Regions from separate parts of the Homo sapiens genome. Here region 2 is linked to region 1. The links come from fine-mapping of genetic effects on plasma protein levels. A gene starts in region 1. The other region holds a variant in brackets. All regions are shown on one strand. Distances are between the middles of the regions. Region 1 holds the start of CX3CL1 (C-X3-C motif chemokine ligand 1). Region 2 overlaps CCL17 (C-C motif chemokine ligand 17).

Evidence for each region. PIP is the posterior inclusion probability: the model's chance that the variant is causal. Protein levels are from the aptamer-based SomaScan assay of Sun 2018.
Region 2: its variant is fine-mapped to the plasma level of the CX3CL1 protein (Sun 2018, PIP 0.95).

The regions. Positions count from the first base shown.
Region 1 is chr16:57,368,530-57,377,313 of GRCh38, reverse strand. It overlaps CX3CL1 (C-X3-C motif chemokine ligand 1), which reads right to left and starts at 4,824. Exons shown (of 3, transcript NM_002996.6): 1 at 4,676-4,824. The coding sequence starts at 4,745.
Region 2 is chr16:57,405,426-57,413,425 of GRCh38, reverse strand. The region is part of intron 1 of CCL17 (C-C motif chemokine ligand 17); the gene reads right to left. Among named protein-coding and RNA genes, the nearest start is that of CCL17, 4.7 kb to the right of the region's middle. The variant G/A (reference allele first, on the strand shown) is at 3,655.

The DNA of each region.
Region 1 (8,784 bases):
ACCTGCAGCCTCCCCAGGCCCTATTGAGTGGAGCCAGGTGGCAGTCCCCTAAAATGGCCTGCAGGTGTCTTCTTTGGGAAGCCCCAGAAAATACGGTGCCCCTGAGTGACCAGAGACAGGAGGAGGCAAGGGAGGCTGCCCAATGGATAGGAAAGAAGGTCCATTCTGTGCTCCCCAAATCCAAGATGGGAAAAGCCATTGCCCACCTCCAGGGCTTTAAAGAGCCACAGAGTCATCCTGTCTCCAAAGTCCCCACCCTCTGCCACGGTCCCTGAATGGTCCTGGCCCGGCTCAGTTCTTGGTTCTGCCAGGAAGATTGTTTAACTGACCTGGGGAGCCTGTCCCTTCTCAGAGCTGAAATTTTCCTTTCTGTAAATGGAGACAATGCCTCATCCAGCCAGTCATATATTATCTGTCATAGGAGTGTCAGGAAGGCAGGGACCTTGTCTGTCTTGGTATCATAGTTTCCCAGCATCAAGCACAAGGTGGATACTCAATCAATATTCATTGAATGAAATTAGTCTCAGTTTACTTATCTCTCTTTAATGCATCTATCTACCTATCCATCCACCCGTCCACCCACTCTTATCAATCTTCTACCCATTCCTCGCCCACCTGCCACCTCCTGCCCAACCCCTATTCATCTCCATTCATCCATCTACCCACTCCCTCTCCCCTACCTACCACCTGTCAATCTTCCGCCCCCTTTTATCTCACCTACTCATCCATCCCTCATCATCCCCTCCCCATCCCTTCTTCCATCCATCCATCTGTCCATCCATCCACCCATCCATCCATCCATCCATTCATCCATCTATCCACCCATCCATCCATCCATCCATCCATCCATCCATCCATCCATCCATCCATCCACTTCCTGATTCAGCCAACACTGGCTGGAATTACTTTTGAGTATATACAAAAATCTCAGGCCCTCTTATCCTTAACCTTGAGCTCTTTCTCCCATAGGCACTGGTGCTGAGTTTGAAGAGAGTGCTTCCATCCCAATAAATGCCATCAGATCACTCTGTTTATTCAGTCAACCAACAAATGCTGGTTCCTCTTGCCAGGCCCTGTGCTGGGTGCTGTGAGGTACAGTGAGATGAACAAGGAATGCCTCTGGCCTCAGAAGGCTCCCAGCCTGATGGACAGGTAAATTAGGCACACAAAGTATCAGAGGTTTTATTTATTTTTTTTAATTGAACACCTACTGTGTATTGGACCCTGTGTCCAGCATGTACACATCTGCTCTCTTTAATTCCCAACATTCCTGCAAAGGGAGTATTATCCCAACTTTACAGATGCAGAAGCTGGAAATAAGAGAGGCTAAATGTGCCCAGTGCCACACAGCTGCATGGTGGCAGAGCTAGTTTTCTACTCAGCCCCTAAACACCCCACTGTTCTAGGCTACCCTAGATGCCAGGTAGAAACACAGTGTTCCAGAACATACCACAAACATATTGGGGTTTACATGAGGGAGAGACCACTTCCAACTTCAAATGGTCAGGGGAGGCTTCTTGGAGGAATTCTCCTTTAGGCTGGACCTCAAGGACTTCTAAGAGTCTTCCAGGGTCTTAGAAGGAGACTCAGGAAATGTCCTGGGTTGCTGGATGAGGTGATAAAGGGAGGGCTTGAGCCATTGCCCAGCTGTGTGTCCTGAGCAAGTCACTCGGACTCCCTGAGCCTCAGTTTCCTTACTTGTAAAATGGATGTGACAATACCTGCTTCACAGTGTGGTTGTGAGAATAAGAATTTTTTAACTTCTGGAGCATTTTTCCCTTAGGGCAAGGTTTCTCAACAGTGACACTACTGACATTTTGGACCAGACAATTCTTTGTTTTGGGGGCTGTCCCGGGTACTATAGGAGGTTTGGCAGCATCTCTGGCCTCTACACACTAGAGGCGAGTAGCTCAACTGAACCAAAAACATTGGGATATTTGTAACAAGTAAAAAATTTCTCTAGAAATTGCCAAATGGCCCATAGGGGAGCAAAATTACTCACTGAGGACCATTGCTCTAGAGATATCCACATGGCTCCCGCCCTCACCCCGCTCCAAACTGTGCAAAGCCACCTACTCAGTGGGCTTCCCTAACCCCCTATTTAAAATGTCAACACCTCTCTTCTCCCCTCTCTATTTTTCTTTTTCTTTTCTTTTCTTTCTTTTTTTTTTTTTTAAATGGACTCTCACTCTGTCACCCAGGCTGGAGTGCAGTGACACGATCTCGGCTCACTCCAACCTCTGCCTCCCAGGTTCAAGCGATTCTCTTGCCTCAGCCTCCCAAGTAGCTGGGACTACAGGCATGCACCACCACACCCAGCTAATTTTATATTTTTAGTAGAGACAGGGTTTCATGATGTTGGCCAGGCTGGTCTTGAACTCCTGACGTCAGGTGATCTGCCCGCCTTGGCCTCCCAATGTGCTGGGATTACAGGCATGAGCCCCTGCGCCCAGCCACCCCTCTCTATTTTTTTATCACAGTGCCTTTTCTCCTTCCAACAGACCACATTGTTTACTGATTTACTTTGTGTGTTATGTGTCCTCTGCAGTTGAATTACAGCACCTCGAGGGCTGAGGTCCTTGGCTGTTTTATTTATTGATGCCGCCCCAGTACCTAGAACCAGGTTTGTCACACAGTAGGTGTCCAATAACTATTTGTTGAATGAATGGACAAAATGCCTAAGGAAGCGCTTTGTGGCATAATACCTTAACCAACAGAAAAATGGAGGAATTTTTATTTAAATTAGACAGGGGCCTGGATCTGACACTCTTGAATTTATCCTCCCATGCCCTCCCCATCCACCCCCACTGCTAATGAGGCGGGTAGGCTATAGGAGCTTAAAACAGATTCGTTTTTTTTTCTCTTTCTTGCCAGGACTTGAGTGGGAGTGAATGCGTCAGCTCTTGGAGTGGGGGGGCAATGCTCTGCACTGACTCGTAGCTGCAGGTTTGTTATATAAAGTACAGAAGCCTCCTGCCTGACACAGCCCCACAAACCCACATTTGGGGACTGACGCAGCTGCCCCACACTAGTCAGGGCAGCAGCTACGAACCCCCCAGCCTCCTCTCGGGGTCTCTCTGGCTTCCAAACCACCCCCTTGTCCTACAGGGGCTCCCGAGGGCCTCTCAGAGCCATACATGTCAGCGTGGGAGAGGACTTCCAAGGTGAGCCTGGTCAAATGCCTAGTTTTACAGGAGGAGAAAGTGAGGCTGAGAAAGGTTCCAATAATGCCCAGGATCTTCCAGTAAAGCCAATGACCAAGATGAGGGCAGAAGCCTGGTTCTAAAGCCTCAGGCTGCTAGTCTGAGCACCCAGGGTCCCCCAGTGTCCCCTTTCCATCCTAGCCTAGGACCCTTCCCTCTCTCAGCTTAGTAAAAGTAATCCTCCTCCTCCGCCCTCTTCAAAACACCTCCATAGGCATTGGAACCTCGTCACCCTCCCCCAATCCACCGGAGAGGTAATAGCTATATTTAAAGATGCAGCAACTGGGACCAGAGGAGGCAAGACCCTGCTCACGGTCACATAACAGGACTGTGGCAAAGCAGCCGCCATCTGACTCCCTGCTTTCCAGATCTCACTGTCCGCAGACACCTCAGGCTTCAGGGCCCCAGCCCAGACAGCAGGAAGCCAGCAGGAATTTGCCTCCACCACTCTCACGTGCCCACCCACCCACACACCTGCTCCCTGCCCCAGGGTGAGTTTGCTCCATGGAAATATCTGGACAGTGGGGACTACTTCTCATTCTCCCAGACTTGCTGTGTGCCCACCTTCTCTGAAGGTCACCCTGCCAGATGGTGGGGGCACTCCCTGAGGAGGGGGCTGGCTAGCGGTTCATGGAGGTGATGTGGCCCACAGAGGTGGTGAGTGTGCATCTGTGCTCTCTCCTGCATTCAGTCCCATGTGTCTTACCTTCTCCTGCCCTACTTGCTGGCTGTGCATTGTCAGGCCAGTTTCTAAACCTCTCTGGGCCTCCATCTTATCCATATCAGGTAGGATGGTTAATTATGTACCCCTACCAGGTCCTGGGCTTCAGTAAGCAAGTGACTAGAGGCAAAAGCATTTTCTACACTGTGCTTGGAGGAGGAAGACAGCATGACGGGTAGACACAGGCAGAGCAACTGGGGCTATAGACTAGCACAGCAGTGGCAAGCCCCAACCATGAGCTGCAGTGACCTTGACCTTCACTGGTCCTGGGCCCCCTAATCCTGGGGGCTTTGAAAACAGGACAGGAGAAAGTCCCAACTGTGGCCTGGCCCAGGGCCAGGGCTGCGGGTTACACATTAACGCTTGATGGAAAGAGCCAGCCACTGTCAGCCAGGGCCTCCCACCCCAGTGCCCAGCAGGAGCTTCTGCAGGCTCTCTCCACCCCCGCCCTCCTGGCACACCCACACCTGGCTCCCTTATGCCACCCACACCACCTCTCTGTGCTTCCAGGCACAGCCACTTTGCTCGCTGGGCCAGGCAGGGCGGTCGCTGGCAACTGGAAATCTGTCCAGCGCTGCATCTGGGGGAAGCGAGGTGCCCAGCCCCCTCTCGCACATCCCTGGGGAAGCGGCTGCCACCGGCCTTGAGCTTTACCCAGGCAGGGTCTGGGGCCCCTGATGTCAGGCTTGAGGGATAGACAAGGGGCTGGGGGCTCCCTACCCTGTTTGTGCCCAAGTCAAGCCCCACTTACCAGCCAGCAGGACAGTCAGATGGCAGAAGGTGGCCAAGCGGAGCAGCCACGACAGAGATATCGGAGCCATGGCTGAGGGTGGGCAAGAGTCCCGGCGGGGGCCAGGCAGGCGGCTAGAGCCAGGCGGCAGAGCTCAGTGCTGTCCCCTTGCCGCCGCCAGAGATCTGTGGCTTTTTATAATGGGGTTGGCTGCCTCCGCCTCCAGCCCCCGCAGGCAGGAGGGTGGGAGGGGAGAGGAAGGGAGCCAGTGTGCAGCCGCTGGATTCCTCAGGATGTTGCCAAGGAACCAAGCCGGCTTTGTGTCCCTGGGCTTCTCACCATCCTAGGCTTGTCATACTGGGACCTTCCCCGGGAGGCTGGACTGGGCCTGCCTGGGTACAAAGGCCTCCTCTCCTGCCACAAGCTGGGAACATGCCCTAGGATCTGGCCTGGGGCCCTTGATCCTAAGTGGGCAACACACAAAAGGCCAGCAGGCCGTGGAATAGAGAGCGGGGCGCCAAGGGGCCGGGAGAGACTCAGGGCCCCTCCATCCTGGGTCTGACAAGCTCTTCTTTGATCCAGAGAATGCCTCGCCCACATCAGGATGGACCCCTAAATTTCCCCTCTTAGAATCCCAAGCTCCTGGGGGACCTTGTTGATCTATGCATCTCCAGAGCCCAGCAGGGAGCCTGAAGTCAGCAGGGGCTTGGTGCAGGGTCTGCTGAAAGAAGGATTGAGTCCAACTTCATATGGATAGATGGGGAAACTGAGGCCCGGAGCCACCCCAGGTTATCCACAGCATCAGAGTGGAGAACTCCCCTCCCACCACCATGATGAGCAGAATGTGGACAGCTCAGGACCCAGGAGAGAGCCCTGGCCTCCCTGCCTCCACCTCCCGGTCTCCCGCTCCCTGCTTTGCACCCACTCCCACCTCTGCTCTGGCCCCTGTTAGCCCAAAGAACAAGGTGGCTGCCAACCCATCCCCGATAACTCTGTGGCTCTTGGCTCCTCAACTCTGTAGCCGTGGCTTGGATAAGGCTTGCCTCTCGTGGGGCCTGAGTTCTCTATCTGCCCAAAGAGAGCATTGGGCTAGTGCAATGGGGAGAGGGCTTCCCAGCACCGGCCCTCCAACAGGCTCTCACCGAAGGGTGCAGAGGCTTGCCAGCCTTGGGAGCACATTAGAACACAGTCTGCCTTCATGGCAGCCTTCCCTAAAGGCAGTGGCAACAATCCCTGAGACTCCAGAAGAGTCAGCAGCTCTGCCTTGGTATAGGACTGAGCTGTACTGGTGTCTCCAGGCTGCCAATCTGAGGGAAACCAGTTGTGGAGCCAGCATCCCACGCTATGAGCCAGTTGGGCTGGGCAGAGGGGCCACAGATCCCAAGGCCAGGGACCTCTCTCTCCTCAACCACCCCCCCCCGCCCCCCCACCCAACCCAATGGGCTGCCTGGTGCATGGGGTTAGGGGTTAGGAGGCTAGATACTTCTTGAAGTAGCGGAACACCCTTGGCAGGAGCCAAGGTCCACTCATGCTCAGAGAATCTGTCCTGGCCTGTGCACATGGGAAGCTAGTAGCCTTCTCATTCCCAATGTCCAATCCCTCTTTTTATAACTGGTGAAACTGAGGCCCAGAGAGGGACAAGGAGGGATAAAAACTGAGGTCGTGTTCTTTCTGCTCTGTTCATGTAAGAACAGAGGAGGAGGCCGAGTGCGATGGCTCACGCCTGTAATCCCAGCACTTTGGGAGGCTGAGGTGGGTGGATCACCTGAGGTCAGGAGTTCGAGGCCAGCCTGGCCAACACGGTGAAACCTCGTCTCTACTAAAAATACAAAAATTAGCTGGGTGTGGTGCACACCTGTAATCCCAGCTACTTGGGAGGCTGAGGCAGGAGAATCGCTTGAACCTGGGAGGCAGAGGGTTGCAGTGAGCCAAGATCACGCCACTGCACTCTAGCCTGGGTGACAGAGTGAGACTCTGTCTAAAAAAAAAAAAAAAAAAAGACATTTTCTTAGGTTCACCAGCCAGGAAATGAGGGATCCTGGATTCGTCCCAGCCAGCTGGCTCTGAGGTCTGAGCTCAAGACCAGTAGGGTCCACCACCTGCCTCCACCCTCACTGCGAGGACCAATGTGAAGACTAAGTGAGTTTATGTCCATAGGGTACGGGACAGAGCCTGGCATAAAATAGAAGCGAAAATGCAAAGCACGGCTCTGCTTTTCCTCATTTGACCCTTTGGACACCCTCTACCCTCCCCAGGTCCAGCTTCTACTCCCATAAAATGGGAATGATCACCCCCATCTATCTCATTAGGATGTTAAGAACTGAATTTAGATTTAATTTGGACACAATAACCAGGCTTTCAGGCTAGCCAGACCCAAGGCTAAACAGGACTCCAGGCCGGATGTGGTGGCTCACACCTGTAATCCCAGCACTTTGGGAGGCCGAGGCAGGAGGCAGAGGCAGATTCCCGGGAATCTGAGACCAGCCTGGCAAAACCCCCTCTCTACAAACATGGTGAAACCCCCTCCCTACAAAAAATATACGAAAATTAGTGTGGTGGCCTGTGCCTGCAGTCCCAGCTGCTCAGGAGGCTAAAGTGGAAGGATCAAGTGAGCCTGGGGAGGTTGAGGCTGCATTGAGCCATGATCATGCCACTGCACTCCAGCTTGGGCACAGAGTGGGACCCTATCTGAAAAAAAATAAATAAATACATCAGCAGGACTCCACCACGGATAAGGGGTGTTCCCTTGGGCAAGTGACTTAACCTCTCTCTGCATTTCAGCTTCCCTATATGTAAAATGGGATGCAAACAGCCACCTCATCAAGCCACCACGACAGTGAATAAAACTAAGGACTTTCACAGTGCCTGGCACGCAGGAGGCATTAGTATCTGTTATTGAGCCCGGTGTGTGCCAGGCAATGTGGTGGGATGGGGGACACAAAGGCAAGTGAGCTGAAGTCCTTGCCCCCAGGAGCTGTAGCTCAGTAGGAGAGAGAAGTTGCCAGCCCTACCAGAGGGCTAGAGGCTGTGGGCTCGGGCAGGAAGGGAGAACTGCATGCTTGTTGGGGAAACAAGAAAGGTGGGTGAGAGAGATGATCTTTCCATCTGAAGATGGGCAGAATTTTGCTTTGTCTCTTTAAAATTTCTGTTTTGGAAAATATTCAACAATACAAAAGAAAGAATCGTACAAAGACTTTCAAATCTCCACCAATGGCTGGGCGCAGTGGCTCACGCCTATAATCCCAGCACTTTGGGAGGCCGAGGTGGGTGGATCACCAGAGCTCAGGAGTTGGAGACCAGCCTGGCCAACATGGTGAAACCCCGTCTCTACTAAAAATACAAAAAATTAGCTGAGTGTGGTGGCGGGTGCCTGTAATCTCAGCTACTTGGGAGGCTGGGAGAGAATTGCTTGAACTCGGGAGGCAGAGGTTGCGGTGAGCCGAGATTGCACCACTGCACTCCAGCCTGGGCAACAAGAGAGAAACTCTGCCTCAAACAAACAAACAAACAAACAAACAAAACCTCTACCACCAATGATTAGCATTTTTTAATATTTGTTTTATCTTTTTTATTTTTATTTTTTAGCCAAACCATTACAAAGTAAATTATAGATGCTTGACACTTTTCCCCTAAATATTCCAGCATGCATCTCCTTAGAATAAAGCTATTGTCTTACATACATGTAATATCATTATCCCATCTAACAAAATTAACAATAATTCCTGTATGTCATCTAACACCCAGTTCATACCCAAATTTCTCCAATTGTCCCCAAAATGTATTTTGTGGTTTCTCCTCTCTCCCTCTTTCCTTCTTCCTGCCTCCTTTCTTCTCTCCCTCACTCCCTTTCTTTTTTATTTTATTCATTTATTTTTATTTTATTTTATTTTATTTTATTTTTTGAGACGGAATCTCGCTCTGTCACCCAGGCTGGAGTGCAGTGGCGCCGTCCCGGCTCACTGCAAGCTCTGCCTCCTGGGTTCACGCCATTCTCCTGCCTCAGCCTCCCAAATATAGCTGGGACTACAGGCGCACGCCGCCACACCCAGTTAATTTTTTTTTTTTTTTGTATTTTTTTTTTTAGTAGAGATGGGGTTTCACTGTGTTAGCCAGGATGGTCTTTATCTCCT
Region 2 (8,000 bases), 37 kb before region 1:
GCCGGGCATGGGCCCATGGGCTCCTGGACCATGAGTGAGCTTCAGGGTGCTGCCAGGGCCACCCTGGCTGCCGGGCATGGGCACATGGGCATCACTCTGCAGGGAGATCCATGCTTTATCTGCCTCCGAGAGGCTGAGGCCCAGCCAGGGCACAGAGCAGCTTTGGTTGGTGTCCCATCCCAGGTGAGGCCCTGACCACAGGAGGCAAGAGCCCAACGGTGCTTCGATTCAGTCCAAATAGCTCAGGAAACCACGTTCCCCTAAATGGGATGCCTTACACTAAGATACAGAACAAAACGAAGGGGTCAGTGGGAGATGCTGCTTCTCACTTCTAGCAGAGCTGTGTCCCGGAGTCAGTACTGGACGCCTGGTCAGGGTCCAGCCTGAGCCAGGCCCTGAGCTGACTTTCCAGGCACCCCAGCTCATGGCATGGCAGATGACAGAACGTAAGTCCACTTTCCAGTGGGGGCAGGAATAAAACAAGAATTGCAATAATGAGGTTGATAAAGTTGGTGAACTGGCTTCTCTGTGACTCTAGCGTCTCAGCCCCAGGCCACAGCATCACTGCATGCGGGTCAGTCCCCTGGCCACCCGAGGAAATTGCCGGTCGCCCTGTTGGGGCTCCCGGGAGCCACAGCATGGGCGTCCCTACAGTAGGATGAGAGTCCCATGGCCTTCAGGTGGGCAGCACCAGGGAAGGGCAGCTCCAGGCAGGGCAGCACCTGGACTCTGATTGTGACATGGGGGACCTTGGCCTGGCTTCATCCTGTCCTTGCATGACCAGGGCCAACTCAAAATGACAGCACTGCCCCTCCAAAACATGGCGCAGGTGGCTTCCACCCTCTCACAGTCCACCCTGTGTTAATCACTAAATCATTACTAAGTTTTTCACTAACTGTCATGATAACTGCAACAGCCGCTATTTGTCATGAGATTTTTGTTTCTTGTTTTTAGATTCTGGGGATACCTGTGGAAACCCCACACTACTGGAGCATCGCTCAGAGCTAACCTCATCAGTCCTTAGGTAGAAGGGCAGGGATCCTATGAGAGGAAACCAGACAAAGACCCTCGACTTCGGAGGAGCCTCAGGCGCTCCTCTCCCCACCCCTCAGCAAGGGCTGCCTGGGAGCCTGTGGCTGCTTCCGCACCTGGGAGTGGGGCTTCCCTGCCCATGGCAGAATCTTTCTGTGGGCAGCATCCTCTATATGACCTCCGGCGGCTCACAGACCCTCTCTGGACCTCAATCTCATCACCTGTAGAGGGAAGTTTGGTCTGTCCCACAGAGCTCTGCCAAAACGGTAGATCTCAGGAAGATGGGGTCCCCCTTGGTGGGCCTCGCACCAACATTCCTCTGCTTCTCTGGGGGTCCCATCAGCTGCCAGAGACCCTGACCCTGCCCCCTCCTCAAGCCACAGTCCAGATGGGTTCTTTGCCCCCAGCCACCCCTCCTGTGCCCAGGGCTGTCTTCCATTTGCACGTGCAGAGGAGGGGGAGGGGAGGCTGCTCTTCCTGCCTGGGCACCTCTTTGGTGCCAACATCCCAGAGAAAGGGAGGGGCAGCCTCAGAGTAGCTCCCCGCAGAGTCCCCCTGCAAAGGAGGCCGCGCTGGGCAGGGGAAGGTGTGCAGGCACAGGGCAGCCCTGACCTGGAGACAGAGCCTGAGCCCAGAGGTGCAGGACCAGGCCTGGGTCCTCGGAAGAGGCAGGAAGGGGCGCCTCCGCCGACCACCCCTCCCTCCCTAGCTGCCCTCCATGCACTCTGCCCTGTGGCTTCTGCCTGCCCTCTTGTGGGGGCTCCACTTGCCGCAGAGGCCACCAATTGCTCTTCTGTGCTACACAACTGCAAGGGACAGCTGATTAATAACAAGTGAGCAGCCTGATTAATGATGAAGCAGCTGCAGTCCCGGCCACTGGGGAAACTCCCCGGTGGGTTCTGAGTCCTCTTCGCTTTCCTGCAGACTCAAAGCTTTCTTCAGAAGGACCCAAATTCCCCTGTTTGTTCTGGGGAACAAATCATGAAAGCAGCAGTGGAAGGTTCTGGACTAGGAAGGTTCTGGTTCAGTTCAAGGCTGGTGCAGGCTGCCTGGCTGGCAGGGGCAGCTGAGCCTCTGGGGGCTGTGCCCAGGGCTGCAGGGCGGACAGAGGCCCGACCCTGCTGTTGTGGGGTTTCACAGTGGGTAAGGGCGGGGGAACAGGCCCTGACCCCTCATAGGGACATGCAGGTGAGATTAAAGGGCTTTGGGGCATAGACTGGGGAGATGCTGCCTCTGGCCAGAATTCGTGGAAGGCTGCCTGAAAGAGGTGGCTGTAGGGCCTAGGGCTAGGTTTTGTAGATAAGATTCATACTGAGATTGGAAGAAAGGACATTGCACAGGGGGCACTGTTTAGGCAAAGGTGCAGAGAGGGGAATGTGCAGAGATAAATTAGGGCAACAGCATGAAACCCCGGCATGGGGCACTGCCTAAATGCAAGGCTAAGAGCCAGTCACACGAGGACTGGCTGTGTCTACCTTGCCCCGCGCCGTGGGCATCCCCAGCACCAAGCATGGTGCCTGGCATGCAGTGAACCTTCAGTGTCACCTGACCGAGTAAACACAGGACTGAAGGAAGGGAAGGCGAGATGGATGCAAAGGGCCCAGTGTGCCTCAGTCTTCTTTGGGAGGCAGCGGGGACCAGGGACATTTTTGAGGTGGTTTCCTCTCCAGGGATTAACCGAGTTTATCCCTCCTCAGTTCTCCCAGGCTATGGGATGGATGCCAAGGGAACTTCCAGACAAACTATTCTGAAGTCTGGGCCTGTGAGAAGCATCTTGAGAGATCTTTATGCTGCTGTGAGGATTCTAGGACCTGGAGGTCTGTCAGGGCAATCAGGAATGCTCCCTGGAGGAAGTGGCAGTGAGGCAGAGCTTTGTGGAGGGGCAGCAGGGGAGAGAGTGCTGTGGCCAAAGGAAGGGAAAGGGCCATGGCAGGGAAGCAGGCCAGACACTGTTAGGCCTATTAGGAGAGTGTGAAGGGTAATTGGATCTGAGTGGGAGGAGCGGCTGTGGTAACTCCTTGTCTCAACGCCTCTGACTAAAGTGGCCAGGCACACCACCCAGGCACCTGCCGCCCTTGCCCCAGGGGCTGCTGCAACACCCAACTCGGCTTTAGCCAGAGGGCACTGGGCCAGGCAGATATGGGGTCCTTCTCCCTGAAAGACAGGGAAGGAAGGTTCCTGCCCCAACCCCAGGCTCTGCCCAGGCTCGTGGAGAAGCCTGTCCCCGAGGCAGTGGGCGGAACCAGGATGCTCTCAGTCACAGGGCAGCCAAGCGGCTGGGGCGGCAGCTCTTCATCATCTTCAGTTGCATTTGACAGCTGTGGCTGACCAGGAGGGGGCAGCTAGGCAGAAGTGTCATCCCGGTCACACCAGTGTCACCTGAGGCTCATCAGGGCAGTGACTTGCCCGAGGTCTCCCGGAGCAGCTCAGTAAGGATTGAGCATTTGTTTACTCATCTCCATCGCTGACAGCTGAAACTGGATTCATCCTGCCCTGCCCAGGGGGCTGGGAATCAGGGATCGGGGCCAGCTCAGCTGAGATGTGAGGGTCCCAAATAGTATTTCCACCCCTGACCCCAAAATAGGCCCCAATCCCCTGTCCCAAAGACTTGACGTGCCCATT[G/A]ATGTGTCTGTCGTTCCTGACAGGGTGTCCTCTTGGTTCCTCAGGTCAGAAACCCAAGGGTCATCTCTGTCCCTGGGCTCTTCCTCACTGCCCACATCCAGTCCATCAGCGAAGTGTGTTAGTTGGCTACCTGCATGCGTCCTGAATCCGTCTCCTTCTCCTCCTCCATCTCTCTGCTGGACCACAGCCGTGAACTCATGCCCCAGCTTCCAGGCCTTCCTGGTCCAGTCCATCTTCCTCTCAAAAGCCCATTGATCTCCAAAACACAAGTCTGAGCAAGGCTCTCCCCTCTTGAAATCCTTCAATGCCTCCCCGTTACTCTCAGGACGAAGCCCACATTTCTGCCTACTTCTCCAGGCTCAACTTTTTCCTCCAGCTCCATCACCCACTATATCATTTTGTCCCAGCCACATGGACCTTCTTTCAGTTCCTTGAAAATGCCGGGCCTTTACTGATGCCCAAGCCTTCGTACAAGCTGTTCTTCCTGTCTGGAACATTCTTTCCTGTTCCCCCGTCTCACTTCCTTTCACTCCTACTCTTATTTTAGAGTGCAGCTTGAACCCTTACTCCTTCCTTCCTCTATGTCCCCAGAGTTCACTGACTTCCCTCATCTTGGCTGTCTTCATATTGTATTGTGATTGCTAGTTTATTTGTTGGGACTCACACAAAAGACTGTAAAATCCTTGAAGGATCTCTTTTGTGTTCCAACTTATCCCTCCAGGACTTAGCACCTTAGTGGGTGCTCAATAAAATATGTTTATTAGGCCAGTTTGGTGGCTCACACCTGTAATTCCAATACTTTCGGAGGCAGAGGCAGGTGGATCACTTGAGCCCAGGAGTTCAAGACAAGCCTGGGCAACATGGTGAAACCCTGTCTCTACAAAAAATGCAAAAAAATGACCAGGCGCAGTGGCTCACATCTGTAATCCCAGCACTTTGGGAGGCTGAGGCAGGCGGATCACAAGGTCAGGAGATCGAGACCATCCTGGCCAACATGGTGAAACCCTGTCTCTACTAAAAATACAAAAAAAAAAAATTAGCTGGGTGTGGTGGCGTGTGCCTGTAATCCCAGCTGCTCGGGAGGCTGAGGCAGGAGAATCGCTTGAACCCGGGAGGTGGAGATTGCAGTGAGCCGAGATCACACCACTGCACTCCCTCCTGGGCAATATAGTGAGACTCCATCTCGAAAAAAAAAAATAGCCAGGTGTTACAGTGTGCACCTGTCCCAGCTACTCTGGAGGCCGAGTAGGGAGGATCACCTACATCAGGAAAGTTGAGGCTGCAGTGAGCCATGATTGTACCACTGCACTCCAGCCTGGGCGACAGAGTGAGACCCTGTCTCAAAAAATATATATATGTTTACTGAATGTATAAATAGGTGAGTGGTTGTATGGATGGGTGAATGAATGAATGGGTGAATGGATATGGATGGGTAAATGAGTGAATGGATGGATGGAGGATGGATGATGGATGGACGTGTGGGTGAGTGATGAATGGATGAGTGGCTGGAAGGTGGATGAAAGAATGGACGGATGGATGGATGGTAGATAAATGGATGGGTGGATGTGTGTATGGATGATGGATAGATGGATTGGTGGATGGATGGTGAAAGGATAAATAGATAGATGGATGGGTAGATGAATGGATGGATAGATGGATGGGTAGATGAATGGATAAATGGATGGGTAGATGGATGGATGGTAGATGGATGTGTGGATGGATGGCAAAAGAATAAATAGATGGATGGATGGGTAGATGGATGGATGGAGGGATGGATGGAAGAATGGATGGATAGATGGATGGATGGTAGATGGATGTGTGGACGGATGGTGAGAGAATAAATAGATAGATGGATGGGTAGATGAATGGATGAACGGATGGGTAGATGGATGTGTAGATGGATGGTAAAAGAATAAATGGATGGATGGGTAGATGAATGAATGAATGGATGGACAGACGGATGGATGAATGGATGGATACATGAATGGATGAATGAATGGGTGGATGGATGGATGGATGGATGATGGATGGATGGAAGGATGGATGAATGGGTTGATGGATGATGGATGGATGCATGAAACTGGATGGGTGAGCAGATGGATGGACTGATGGATGGGTGGGTGTATGTGTAGATGTATGGCTAGATAGATGGATGTGTGGTTGGATGGATGAATAGAAGTATGGGTGCATGGCTTGATAGATGATGAATGGATATATACATGCATGAATGCATGGATAGATGGATGGTCACTTAGAGATTCTGAACTACAACATGGGCCCAACTCACATTCTATCCCAGGGCCTCCTTCATCCAAATAGTTTTTAAACCAGTGTGTACCATCATTTCATGAGACACACCCGAATCCTTCTGTCATGGATAAAGCAGAGGAATCTAACCAAGGACACCCTGACTCCTCCCCCATCTAGTTTACAACTTCCTTGTGGTTGTGGCCATTTTTTGCCAAACCTATATTGCTTCAACTGTGGCTTGGATCTCAACCTTTATTCATCCCAGAGGGGCCTCCTTCCCTCAGTTGCACTGCCATCTTCTAGCTCTTTACTGTCTCCAATCCCATGACCCCCTTTCCCTCTGCTGACAACATGATCCTGTCTCTCCACTTCCATAAAGACCTCCCCTTGACTTCAACACCCTCGCATGCTGCCCTCCCATTTCTCCTTTCATTCATGACCAAACTGCTCCGATGTGTGGTCTGTACTTCCCTCTACCATTTCCTCTCTGCCCACTTGTGATTTAATTAATCCTCAGCAATGTGGCTTCCAGCTCTGATGCTCTAGGAAAGGTGCTCTCACTGAGCCTCTTGATCCCCTCCAGCCACTCCCTGAACCTCCCACTGCCTTACATTGGGCAGTGATTACCAGCAGAGGCTCTGGAATCATTACCTACAGCCCTGAGTCCCAGTCACTCTTCTACTTGTTCCTGGTTGTGTGACTAACAGCGATTTTATGAACTTCAGTTTTCTCATCTGTGAAATGGGTGTGATGATAAGACACTCCCTCATGGTATGACCTGGAAAACTAACTGAGATGAAGTCTATAAAGTTCCTAGTCTCCAGCTGGCTCAGGGAATCGCCTTGTCATCCCTGGGAACCTACCATCCTTCTTGATGCTCCTCCCACTGGGATTTGGGACATGGTTCTTCCCTGAGCTCCCTGTGAGCTCCTCTTCTCAGAAATGTCCCTGAGCTCTCACTATAGGCTGGGGTGGGTGTTGGGGCAGGGGAATCTCAGCAGTTAAGTCTATTAGTTTACTTTGTCCTCACAACAGCTTCAGGGAGTAAGAACTATTAGTTTCTACAGATGAGAAAATTAGGAACTGACCAGAGTAGTTTAAGCAACTGGTCCACTGTAATCCCAGCACTTTGGGAGGCTGAGGTGGGAAGATCGCTTGAGCCCAGGAGTCTGAGACCAGCCTGGGCAACATAGTGAGACTCTGTCTCTACAAAAAAAATAAAATGAAAATTAGCCAATCATGGTGGTGCACGACTGAGCCATGACTGTGGCACTGCGCTCCAGCCTGGGCAAAAGAGCAAGATTCCATTTCAACAACAACAAAATAAATCTGCTTCATGGGCACAGAGCTAGCTGGTGGCAGGAGCAAGCCTGGGCTTCTGTCCTAGACTTTGTTTTTGCCTCAAGCAACCTTCCCTTCCTCCCTGACATCATCTACCCCAGATCTTTTACCTCTGGATAAAGACTTCTTTTTTTTTTTTGAGACGGAGTCTTGCTCTTTCGCCCAGGCTGGACTGCAGCAGCGCTATCTCGGCTTACTGCAAGCTCCACCTCCCGGGTTCACGCCATTCTCCTGCCTCAGCCTCCCAAGTAGCTGGGACTACAGGCGCCCGCCACCATGCCCGGCTAATTTTTTTTTTTTTTTGTATTTTTAGTAGAGACGGGGTTTCACCGTGTTAGCCAGGATGGTCTCGATCTCCTGATCTCGTGATCCACCTGCCTCGGCCTCCCAAAGTGCTGGGATTACAGGCGTGAGCCACCGCACCTGGCCTGATAAATACTTCTTAAATCTCTGTCTCCAGCCCTGACCAGTAACTAATCAGACACACCCACCTGGACACTCCTCCTTCCGGCCCATCTTTCTGTGGCACCCCTCAGCTCTCTCTGCCTTGCAGCCTGGCCAGCTCTGTGCAGTTCTGTCCCCCACACTAACCTGTGAGCTGCTGGGAAGCAGAAGTCTGTCCTGCTATGGTTCACTCAGCCCCAGGTACCAGAAGGGCAAAACCGAGTTCCCTCTCACACCAGCCTCCTTTTTTTCTGTTCAAGCCAGCATTGTTTCCCATCTCCCCATCTGCCCCCAAGTCTGAAACTTTGCCC